Linked DNA regions of Homo sapiens: all the other regions are linked to region 2. The links come from fine-mapping of genetic effects on gene expression. A gene starts in region 2. Each other region holds a variant in brackets. All regions are shown on one strand. Distances are between the middles of the regions.

Evidence for each region.
Region 1: its variant is fine-mapped to the expression of LRP8 in breast (GTEx, PIP 0.98).
Region 3: its variant is fine-mapped to the expression of LRP8 in monocytes after LPS (Quach 2016, PIP 0.95).
Region 4: its variant is fine-mapped to the expression of LRP8 in lung (TOPMed, PIP above 0.99). The same link has a PIP of 0.9 or more in thyroid.

The regions. Positions count from the first base shown.
Region 1 is chr1:53,291,766-53,294,520 of GRCh38, reverse strand. The region is part of intron 2 of LRP8 (LDL receptor related protein 8); the gene reads left to right. LOC105378726 (a long non-coding RNA gene) reads right to left here. Exons shown (of 6, transcript XR_007066090.1): 3 at 1-2,755. Among named protein-coding and RNA genes, the nearest start is that of LRP8, 35 kb to the left of the region's middle. The variant C/T (reference allele first, on the strand shown) is at 1,121.
Region 2 is chr1:53,326,587-53,329,214 of GRCh38, reverse strand. It overlaps LRP8 (LDL receptor related protein 8), which reads left to right and starts at 1,145. Exons shown (of 19, transcript NM_004631.5): 1 at 1,145-1,426; 2 at 2,223-2,342. The coding sequence starts at 1,303. LRP8-DT (LRP8 divergent transcript) reads right to left here and starts at 982. Exons shown (of 3, transcript NR_131923.1): 1 at 840-982. RefSeq lists enhancers at 709-938, 1,989-2,098 and silencers at 1,009-1,208, 1,279-1,428, 1,479-1,648, 2,164-2,458, 2,479-2,538.
Region 3 is chr1:53,496,567-53,499,321 of GRCh38, reverse strand. No RefSeq gene overlaps it. Among named protein-coding and RNA genes, the nearest start is that of DMRTB1, 39 kb to the right of the region's middle. The variant AG/G (reference allele first, on the strand shown) is at 1,089.
Region 4 is chr1:53,304,638-53,307,137 of GRCh38, reverse strand. All of the region lies in intron 2 of LRP8 (LDL receptor related protein 8), which reads left to right. The region is part of intron 4 of LOC105378726 (a long non-coding RNA gene); the gene reads right to left. Among named protein-coding and RNA genes, the nearest start is that of LRP8, 22 kb to the left of the region's middle. The variant G/A (reference allele first, on the strand shown) is at 1,246.

The DNA.
Region 1 (2,755 bases), 35 kb after region 2:
CGTGAAGCAGACGAAGAAAGTGCGGCTCACAGGAGTCCTGTAACTTGTGTAAGGTCACATAGCCTACAAGTGGCAGGGCGCAGTTTGATAGACCATGGACTGTCTGGCACTTTCCTTGGCCCGTGTTCTTGTTATAAATAGCATTTCCCACTTCCTTTGTCCTGGATTTCCCACTCTCCCCTACTCTACCCTGGGGTCAGCCCCTCCTCACTGCCCCTAGAATCCCCTAGTCCTTTGTGGCAGCCCATCTGTTGCCATGGCACCAGATTATGATGTCGCAGACCCTGGTTGACTATGTATCACTCCTGGGCTGAGGGACTCACAGAGGTGGGCATTGTCCAAGGGGCAGACTGGCATGGGGGGACATAAATCCCTGGAAACAGGGAGCCATGGCCTTGAGCCCAGCTGGGGAATCACCCTGGGAACCAGAGCCAAGGCCAGCAGAGTAGGGGTCTGGCATGGCTTTCTCTGACAGCCTTAGAATGGCGGCACAGCCCTCATCTCATGGCAGGGCTGATATGGTCTCTTCACGAGGGACTATTGGGCTCATTGCACTGAACGGCCTGACACTGGGTGTTCACCAGGATCCCCCAGAAGAGTCTTTTTGCCTTTTGTCCTTGTGACAAAGCTGCATGGGAAAGCCACATCCCCACTTGCCCAGGTTCACCCCGAGGTGGCTATGCCAGGAGTCAGTCTCCACTCTGACTCCAGATCCTTCCATATGGTCACACTTCCAATGGGGCCCTCCAGCGTGCTTTAGTCTAGTCCCCACCCTGAAAGTGCTGTCCATTAGCAGAGCAAAAGCCGTCCCAGGCCTGGGTTTATTCTGCTGCACACTTCTGGGCACATTCCAGGAGACCTGAGAGATGTTTCAGTACATTTGAGGACTCTCTGGGGTCCTCATTCTTAGCCTGGTAACACTGAGGTGGCTGAGGGTCTGAGTGGAAAGAGATCAAGCTTTGGCAGCTGCCACACACAGTTGAAATCACACTTCTGCCACCTAACACCCTTACCTCTAAGCCTTAATTTCCTCTTCTGTACAATGGGATTAATAACAACAGCTACCAAGATAGCTGTGAGGAGTCACTGGGATATTGGGTGAAAGGTGCCAGGCCAGAGC[C/T]AGAGTGGAAAATCTCCAAGCTGGTCCAGCCAGTGAACAAATCTGTTCCCAAAAACACCACCGAATCTGTTGCCAAAAACACCACTCTCCCTGCAGCTGCCATTTCCTGGGCGGGGCTGACCTCAAAGCTGCCCTTTGGGACAGCAGTGGTGTTTTTGGCTGCTCTGGCCTCCTTGCCCAGTGCCTGCCAGGGCTTGGCACATGGAGGAGGACAAGATCACCCCCAGGCTTTCAGAATCCCAGGGAGGGCAGGGTTTTTGGGGGGTATCTGGTTGTCCTGTGCCCAGCAACAGAGCCCCATCATCACCTTCTTCAAGCCTGCCCTGCTGTTTTGGGCACTGTCTGACCACACATCCTTGCCAGACTTGCCTACTTGCTCTTAATTCCCAGAGACTGGGCTGGGCTGATTCTGTGTTCTCAGTGCAGAACGTAGAACAGAAGCAAGGTTCATTGAATGTGGAACTGAAGCTTGCACAGGGCTTTCCCACCTGCTGTAAGGTTTTTCTTCCACATTTGGTACTGCTGAATGTTTGACTGGGGAGCCGTGGTGGAGATGAGCAGGCATCTGACTGTGGGTTCAGACTGTGACCCTGCTCCCCCCAGCTGTGACCTTGGACATGTAACTTAACATCTCTGGGTCTGGATTTCCTCATATGTCAAATGAGTACATAGCAGGCCCCCTGCCATGAGGTTTCTTGGGTAAAAACACCTGGCAGAGACTGGCACAGAGGAAGCACCTAGTGAGTGTTAGAACGAGAAAAAGAGAAAACTAGGATATACGTTTCTTTTTTTGGATGCTGAGCTTCTTGTGGGGGGAAAACCACTGGTGTTCACATTAGGAAATTCCCCAGGTGCTGTGGTTCATATTGGTACTTACTTTAAGATGATTATGGACTATGATTTACCAATAGGTGGTATTCGCATCTATCATTGACGATGACCTCTCAGTGCAGGAAACAGGGAGGGCCTCTCCAGAGCCCTGGGCTGAGAGGCAGGAGAGCTGTTCTTATCCCTGCCATGCTGTATTTCCCTCAGCCAGCCCCTTTCCCTTTCTGGGCCTCAATCTACCCATCTGAAGGTGGACTCTGATTCCTCAGGTTTCTTCTAGTTCTGCACGTACAGAGGCATTCTTCTAAGCAAAGTGTGAAGAAAACTCATCTTAGAATGCAGATGTACTGCAAAGATTCCACTGAGAAGGACAGACATGGAACAGATTCAGAGACACAGTCTCTCTCACCAAATCCTTGCCAGGCTCCCCAGAGGAGGGGGAGCAGGCCTGCAGCCCCAGAAGCACCCAGAGGGCCTGTGGGTAGATTTGAATAAAGGTGGTCCATGGGAGTGGCTTCCCAGGGAGAAGGCAAGCCCCAGAACTGTAAGTATGGAGCAGAGGCTGGGGGGCTGTGCTCGCATTTAGCTCAGTGTCCCGCACTGAGACCTACCCCAAGCTGGATTCTTGCTGAATTTGACAGTCTCTGTGCTGCAGGGACAGGGAAGAAAGCAAACCATGTTGGACTCGCAATCAGTGATGATCTAGAGCAGAGGTCATCAAAATACAGGCCACAGGCCTGGCCTGTCACCAGTTTTTTGTAAATAAAGTTTTATTGAAACATAACCATGCTCACTCATTTATCTAAT
Region 2 (2,628 bases):
GGCTGCTGAGGAGACAGGGTGGTTTCCAGGCCAAGGGCTAACAGCACCTGCCCATCCGCGAGGGAGGTGAAGGGGCAAGAGGGGAGGGAGGGTGGACCTAACACTGGCTCTTGGCACCTGCAGGCCGGTTGTTTTGAGTGGCCAATGCCCTGGAATCTCATTCTCTAAAGAAGGTTGTGTGGGTTGGACCCGGCTCACAAGTCTGAGGCTGAAATCGAATCCCAGCTCGCTCTCCGCACCCATTCTCCCCAGTGTGGGTGAGGCGGGCTGCAGCCCTCCAGAGGAAGAGGTGCCTTCTCCTTCCTGCAGAAGACAGCAGGGGCGGACAGCGCGGGCCTAGGTGCGCGGCCCCTAGCGGCAGGGATGGCATCCCTTCCGTGCCCTCCCCTTCCCCCCCGCCCGGCCCGCCCCACAGACCTCGTCTTTCTCCATCACAGCGAGGATTCCTTGTCTTCCCTGCGGGCCCCCCCTGGTTGCCCCTCTGACTAGGGGCCTGGAGCGTACTTAACGACGATGAATAGTCTGTGCACCAGGCCCAATCCACCTGCCTCACGTCCCCATGATCACATGAGCGTGCAACATGCACAGATGCACATGGCACGGAAACCAAACCAGCCACAGGGATTTATAATATCCCAGCCGGAGCCCATGACAGGTGCAGGGGTCCAGCCCTGCGCCCCCAGCTTCTCCCTGCTCATCCACATCTTGGGATCTCACCCCTATCCCTCCCTCCCCCGCCCCACGCGCACACTGCACAGGCCTGTTCGTCCTGTAACATCATTTCCCCTCCCGCCCAGGCTCACTCCTAGACATCCCTCAGCCTCTGATCCGCCTGTCACCTCCTCCAGGAAGCCTCTGCTGCTTCCTCTGGACCTGCTACCTCCGTGGTGAGGGGCTCGCCTGGCCCATCCCTGCGTCTGCAGAGCCCAGCACTCAGGCGAGCCCAGAGCAGGGCCGTGGAGCGCCCGCTGAGAGAAGAGTGGACGAAAGACAGGAGGGAGGAGGGCGAGGAGGCGGCGGCAGGGGGAGCGTGGGGCGGAGGCGGCAGCGGGAGGGAGCGCGCGCGCTGGCGGCGGCCGCCCAGGGCCGGGGCCGCGCGCCCAGCCTGAGCCCGCCCCGCCGCCGAGCGTCACCGAACCTGCTTGAAATGCAGCCGAGGAGCCGGGGCGGGCGGCAGCGGCGGCGGCGGCGGCGGCGGGGGCAGCGGCAACCCCGGCGCCGCGGCAAGGACTCGGAGGGCTGAGACGCGGCGGCGGCGGCGCGGGGAGCGCGGGGCGCGGCGGCCGGAGCCCCGGGCCCGCCATGGGCCTCCCCGAGCCGGGCCCTCTCCGGCTTCTGGCGCTGCTGCTGCTGCTGCTGCTGCTGCTGCTGCTGCAGCTCCAGCATCTTGCGGCGGCAGCGGCTGATCCGCTGCTCGGCGGCCAAGGTGCGTGCAGCCGGTCTCTGACTCGGCTCTGCTCCGCCCTAGCCACCAACAAAGCGCGGCCGGGAGGCCGGAGCGGGGAGGGGTCCAGAACCCGGGGCTATCGGGGGCTCCCGGGCGGACAGGCTCCACGCGAAGCGGCTATTCCTGAATTTGCCCTCGGCCCCCCGCCCCCGCGGGCCTCGGTGTTGAGGGCTCTGCCCTCTGGGCAGCGGATCTTGGGGGAGGGGTGCAGGGGGGCTTGGCCAGCGGGGAACTTTGCCGGAGGGGCGGCCATTCATGGTTCCGGATGAGCTGTGTGATTCTCGCCGTTGGGGTTTATTTGACACGCGCGCTCCGCGGCGGTAATGAGCAGAGCCGGGCGGCTTCTCCGCTTGACAATGCGTTTCCGCAGACCCCTGCGCGCGGCGGAGAGAGAGGGGGCTGCCTGCCAGGGTGATGTGCCTGCGGCTCCCACTGCGCCTGGCGCGCGGGCGCGGGGACTCCCTATGGGCTGTATCTGAGCAGATCTCTGACTATGGGTCGCGTGTGCGGGTGAGTGCGTCTGAATGGAGGGTATACCCAGGTCGTGTGACACTTTAAGTAGGTGCCTGGTCTCGCCGTGCCACCGAGCGGCCCGACATCCACGGAACCCCTGCCATCGTGCCCTCCCTTTGGATGGAGTGTGCCTGAAGCCCCCGGGGTCTCCATAATCGCCCCCTTTCCTCCTCCCCAGCGGGTCCTTCCGGGTGGCCCGGACTGCATGGTGGGGAGTGGGGCCGAGTCCGCTGATCCAGCTCACGCTCCCTCCCCCTCGCAGGGCCGGCCAAGGATTGCGAAAAGGACCAATTCCAGTGCCGGAACGAGCGCTGCATCCCCTCTGTGTGGAGATGCGACGAGGACGATGACTGCTTAGACCACAGCGACGAGGACGACTGCCGTGAGTGGCGGGCCAGGGAGCTCAGACCCGGGGAGAGAAAAGGAACGGTGGGGGGCACCATGCTTGGCGCGCACGTGGCTGCAGCCGCCGCGCTGCCACCTGCGCGGGACTTGCCGCCGGAGCCTGCGACCGGGAAACCGCCTGGGCACCGCCTCCCTCGGGGCCGGGTGGCTCTTAGCGACCCGGAGCGGGCAGGAAAGCTGGCGTGTCCTGGTGGGGCCGGGGCGGAGCCCCGGGCAGTGTGCCGGAGGAGGAAGGCGCACCATGCTGGGGAGACTGAACCGGA
Region 3 (2,755 bases), 170 kb before region 2:
AAGTAAATTACCCCAGATCACACTGAGCCAGGTTTTGAACTCACGTCCTCTCAACTGCAAAGCCCATGCCCTTGGCCACCCTCTGAGCCCCAGAACTTTGCTGTCCCCAAACTCCTGAGGTGAGAGGCACATGCCAAGTTGAGCTGAGACCCTGGGATTGGAAGTCAGCCTGTTTACAATCTGCCTATACCACTGACTGGAGGAAAGTCGCTTCACACTCTGGGCCTTGGTTTCCCCATCTGTGGAGAGGGAGCTATCCTCTTAGCTCTCCTGGCTTCTGGGGAATAAAAAGCACTAATGGACAGGAGATGGGTTTTGCAAACCATGAAAGGCCATGTGCAGCTGAGCTGGTATTATCACTGGAGCCTGGCACTTCGCCTTCATCTGTGGTTTCCTCTGTGTCAGTGAAACCACAGCCACTAGACGGGGAGCAACTCAAGGTGGGGCCCGGGGTGAGGAGCTGGAGCCTGAGCCCCCAGTGGAGAAGTGAGTGGGGGTCTCCAGCTAGGAAGGAAAGGGTGGGAGGTGGAGAGCAGCCCCAGGGGGCAGTCACTAAGCCCCATGCAGGGCAGAATGCCAGGAACACAGGCTCCACGGGGCCCAGACACCGTCCCTCGCCAAGCAAGACACAGGCTGTGCTGCAGCCATCTCCACGGGGCCTGGGGTTTCCTGGGGGCTCTGTGCCCAGGTGTCCGGAGTGCAACAGGCACACACTGCTCTATTACTGATGGGGAAACTCAGGGTCAGGGAGCTGGTGGCTCTCAAAAGATGGTGAGACCCAGGCTGGGCAAGGTGGCTCACATCTGTAATCCTAGCACTTTGGGAGGCCGAGGAGGGTGGATTGCCTGAGCTCAGGGGTTCGAGACCAGCTTGGGCAACATCTCGAAACCCCATCTACTAAAACTACAAAAAACAATTAGCCGGGCATGGTGGCACATGCCTGTAGTCCCAGCTACTCAGGAGACTGAGGCATGAGAATCGCTTGAACCTGTGAGGGGGAGGTTGCAGTGAGCTGAGATAAAGCCACTGCACTCCAGCCTGGGCAACAGAACAAGACTGTCTAAAAAAAAAAAAAAAAAAAAAAAAAA[AG/G]ATGGTGAGGCCCAGAGTGTTGACAGCAGGGATTCCAGAGTTCCCAAAATCTGAGTTCCAAAACCCACGCAGCCATGCTCCGACTGGGGTCTTGAGCAGGTCACCTCACTGAATCTGAGGTTCTACTCTGTAAGATGAGACGATGCCTCCTCTATTGGTGGGTGGATCAAATGGGGCGCTAGAGTGAGGGCTTGGTACATAGTAGGTGCTCAGGTGTGAGTATTTTCGTTCGAGGACTGCCCATTTAGATGAGTGCCCTAAGCATTCTCCTCATGATTTGAAATCAAGTTCCATGGTACAAGTGGGGAAACAGTCCCGGGGAGATGGCCTGACTTGCTGGGGACACATGGCCATTTGGTGGTGGGTCTGGTCTCAGGACACCCAGGGCAGTGCTCAAACCACCCCATGCTGTCTTGGGCAGAGGCCTCACTAGTCAGCACATCCCAGCTTGTCTACCCAGGGCCTTGTACCTTGATTCAAATTCTGGCTCTGGAGGCAGGGCGTGGTGGCTCATGCCTGTAATCCCAGCACTTTGGAAGGCCAAGGCAAGTGGATGGCTTGAGCCCAGGAGTTTGAGATAAGCCTGAGCAACATGGTGAAACCCCATCTCTACCAAAAATCCAAAAACTAGCTGGATGTGGTGGTGCATGCCTATAGTCCCAGCTACTCAGGAAGCTGAGGTGAGAGGATCACATGAGCCTGGGAAGTCAAGGCTGCAGTGAGTGAGCTGTGATTGCACCACTGCAATCCAGCCTGAGAGTGGAGACCCTGTCTCATTAAAAAAAAAAAAAAAAAAAAAAAAATTCTGGCTGTGCAGCCTTAGACAAGTCGCATGCCCTCTTTGGGCTTCAGTGTCTTCAACTGAGAAATGGAAAACTATGATGTTGTGTTGAAGAGGACATGAGAAACCAGGAGTGGCAGCATTTGGTGACCTTGGAGAGCCACGGACAGAGTGGGAGAGGGGAAGAAGTCTCCATCTGTCGATTCAGCAGTTGAGCAATTTGTCATACTCCACTGTGTTTTAAGAAGAGTCGGAGGCTGCTCCAGGTCTTCTTACACCCATTCAACAAGGTAGGCTCCTGCAAGCGTGTTTCAGGGCTGAGCACCCAGAAGTGCCCCCAACATGGCCTCCCTTCCCATAGCCTGCAAATCTCTGTCTTTTTTCTTAATTTCTCTCTGTGCACTTAATGTGCTAACGAAATAGTTAATTCCACAGTGCCCTCTTGACAATTGGACATATGTCCAGGAATGGGCATTACTTTTAGCATCTCCCCAAGTAGGTTGATAATTAGGGAGGGAAAATCCTGCTGTTGCCAGAAACAGAGACAGAATGTGACCCTGCCAGCTGATGGGCCTAGGCTGCCCGAAGGCAAAGCCATCACTCCAAGGTCAAGAGACCTTCTACAGTCCATGCTGCCTACCCTCATCCATTGGCCAAGAACCTCCCTTGGTCTCCCCAACTTCCAGGTCTTGCTCATGACAACAGGAATTTTTTTGAGCCCCTCCATGTGCCAACCACTTGACATATGTTAACTCATTCACTCTTTAAACGAGAGAGAGAGAGAGAGAGAGGGAATCTAGGCTCAGAGTGCCAGACCAGGTCTGCAGGGCCCAAAGATTGCTCTCCCTTCTCCTGGAACAAGCTGCCTCTTCGAGTCCTGCTTCC
Region 4 (2,500 bases), 22 kb after region 2:
GTTAGATTTTCATGGTGGCTCAAAGTGGTTCTGAGAGAGTACCACCCCCCCTACTCAGTATTGCTCAGGGGGCAAGGTCAGGATTCCCACTGCACATCCTGTGTTCTTCCTGTTTCAAGGAGGAGATATCAGGGCTGCTGGAGAATGCTGGGCCTGATAGTCCTCTGACTGCTGTGTGACCTGGGCCCATCCTGTCCCTCTCTGAACCTCAGGGGTGATTGTAAGAACTAAATGAGGAGACATATACAAAGGGCTTCGTAAACCAGGAGATGAGGTGAGGTGATGTAGACAGATGAGGGCCTGGCCCAGAGATGGCATCACAATACGATCAGAGCCAAAGCTGAGGCCCAAGTTCATGTGTCCCAGGGTTTCCTGAGGAGCAGGCCAGGAGGTGGGACCCAGGACAGAGGCAGGTGCCCTCCCAGCCTTGCAGACTCTGAACCTGTCCTCAGAACCATCTGCCTGGTGCCAGCACTCTCCTCCAACTCCAGCCCCAGACACATGGCTCATGGCAGTGAAGTAAAGCAGGAACAGACCCAGGGAGCAGTGGGATCCAACCCCTCAACTGGTGTTGACGCTGAGGCCCAGAGAGGGGGAGTGGCTTACTCAAAGCCACGCAGCAGCTCGGGGGGTAGAGCTGGGACCAAAACCCAGGCCTCCTGGCCCCTGGCTCTGTTCTCCTTGGTACCATACCACTGTCTTTGGCAAGAGAAAGAGGACACAAGAGCTAGTTCACATGCCTGGAGAAAAGGATGTGGGAGTGCCACCCAGCTAGACAGCACTAGAACAGACCAGAGCCCCACTTCCTGCATGAATGGAGGATCTGAAGCAAGGCTTCAATGATTACTGCTTTTCCTAGGTATGCAGAATGCTGGAGGGTAAATAGGGTTTGTGTCCTGGGCTGTACATTCTGTATAGATGGAAAAGCCCCAGGCTTCCAGATTGCCTGCATGCGATGCCTTCAGCACACGCTTCCTCAGTGCCTGCCTCCACCGAGCTGCTAGTCTGGTAGAGAAAGATGGTTGAGTGCCACCAACACAGGATGATGAGGCTGTGGATCAGAAGAGGTCTCTGATCCCACATGGGGTCGTGGAAAGCTTCCCAATAGAATAGAGAAGGGGAGGAGGGTCCTCCACTCCCAACTCCCAGAGAGTGAGGAATGTGTGCGCCTCAGACACCCTGGCCCCCTGGCAGTCTGGGCCTCATAAGAGCTCATGCTTGGGCAGGCTCACCGTTCACCCTGGA[G/A]TGGGTGGCTGGGTGCCTTCCAGCTTCCTCCTCAGCGCCTCTCCTGTGCCAGGGCCCATGCACGTGGGTGGAGGAGAGGCCATTCTAGAGGCCCCTGGCTCCCTGTGGGGCTGAGGAGAGACTAGTGTGGGGGCAGGGGTGGAGGTGCAGGGAAGCTGGTGGCCAGACCTCCTGTGACCTCCACTCATTGCCTGTGTGTCCAGGTGGGCCAGTCTCAGCTGCCCCGCTTGGCGTTATAACCATTGTGGTGTTAGCCAGGGACGAGGCTTCTGAAGTAGCCTGCACTGTGAGCCCCGCTGGCTGCCAGGTAATAATTCCACCCGCCTTGACCTTTTTCTCCAAGGAACAGGCCTTCTACTTTATACATGGAGAAAACAAGTCACAGAAGAACCAGGTGGCCCAGGATGACAGAGGCTAGGCCTCCAGATGCCCTTTAAAAATTGCAACAAAAACCTCTTAAGGACTCACTGTGTACAAAGCCTGGTGGTGGGGCTGCCACAGCGGCTGGGATAAAGGGAGGAGGAACTTCGGTCACTGAATATTTTCTGTGTGCCATCCCTTATGTCGGGCACTGATAGACGTGATCTAGCAACCAACTGCCCTCCGAGTCAGGATCTACCACCACATTTTTAAATGAGGAAACATGGGCTCAGAGCGGTCAGGTAGCCTGCCTGAGGTCGCTTAGCTAGTAAGGGACAAAGGCGTGATTTGAGTCCTGCGTTCCTTCACCTGTTTTTGTGGGAGAATGGCCATGTCAGGCAGCAGACTGGGATCTTCCAAACCTTAGTTCTGGGAGGAAGGTTCACTTGCAGGAAAAACCAAGGTGAGTGGAATCATCTTCAGGCAGCCAGCAGTGCTCACTGGGCAGGCTGTTTAAAAGTGGCTTCCTCTTCAAGCTGTAGTGGGACCTGTCTTACTGGGGGAGCCATGCTGGCTCAGAACCCCTAGGCTGATGGGCACCCCTCTGTAAGGGGCTCTGAGAAGTGGCCGGTGTGGCTGAGGTCTGGGCCAGGATGCCAGTGGGCGGTGAGGGTTTGCTGGGCACATGACCCCACACCTTTCCTCTTCTTGCCTCCCACAGCCATGTCTGTCCCCTTCTGCCCAGCTCTGGTTGGAGGTGCTGAGCTGGGGCTTGTGGCCATGAACCATCCCCATACTGCTGGCCCTGGGGCTGGCCTCAGATGGGTGGGTGGTCCCGGCCAGAGCCCTGAACCCCGGCCCTGCCAGAACCAACACCTGGAGACATGGCCACCTC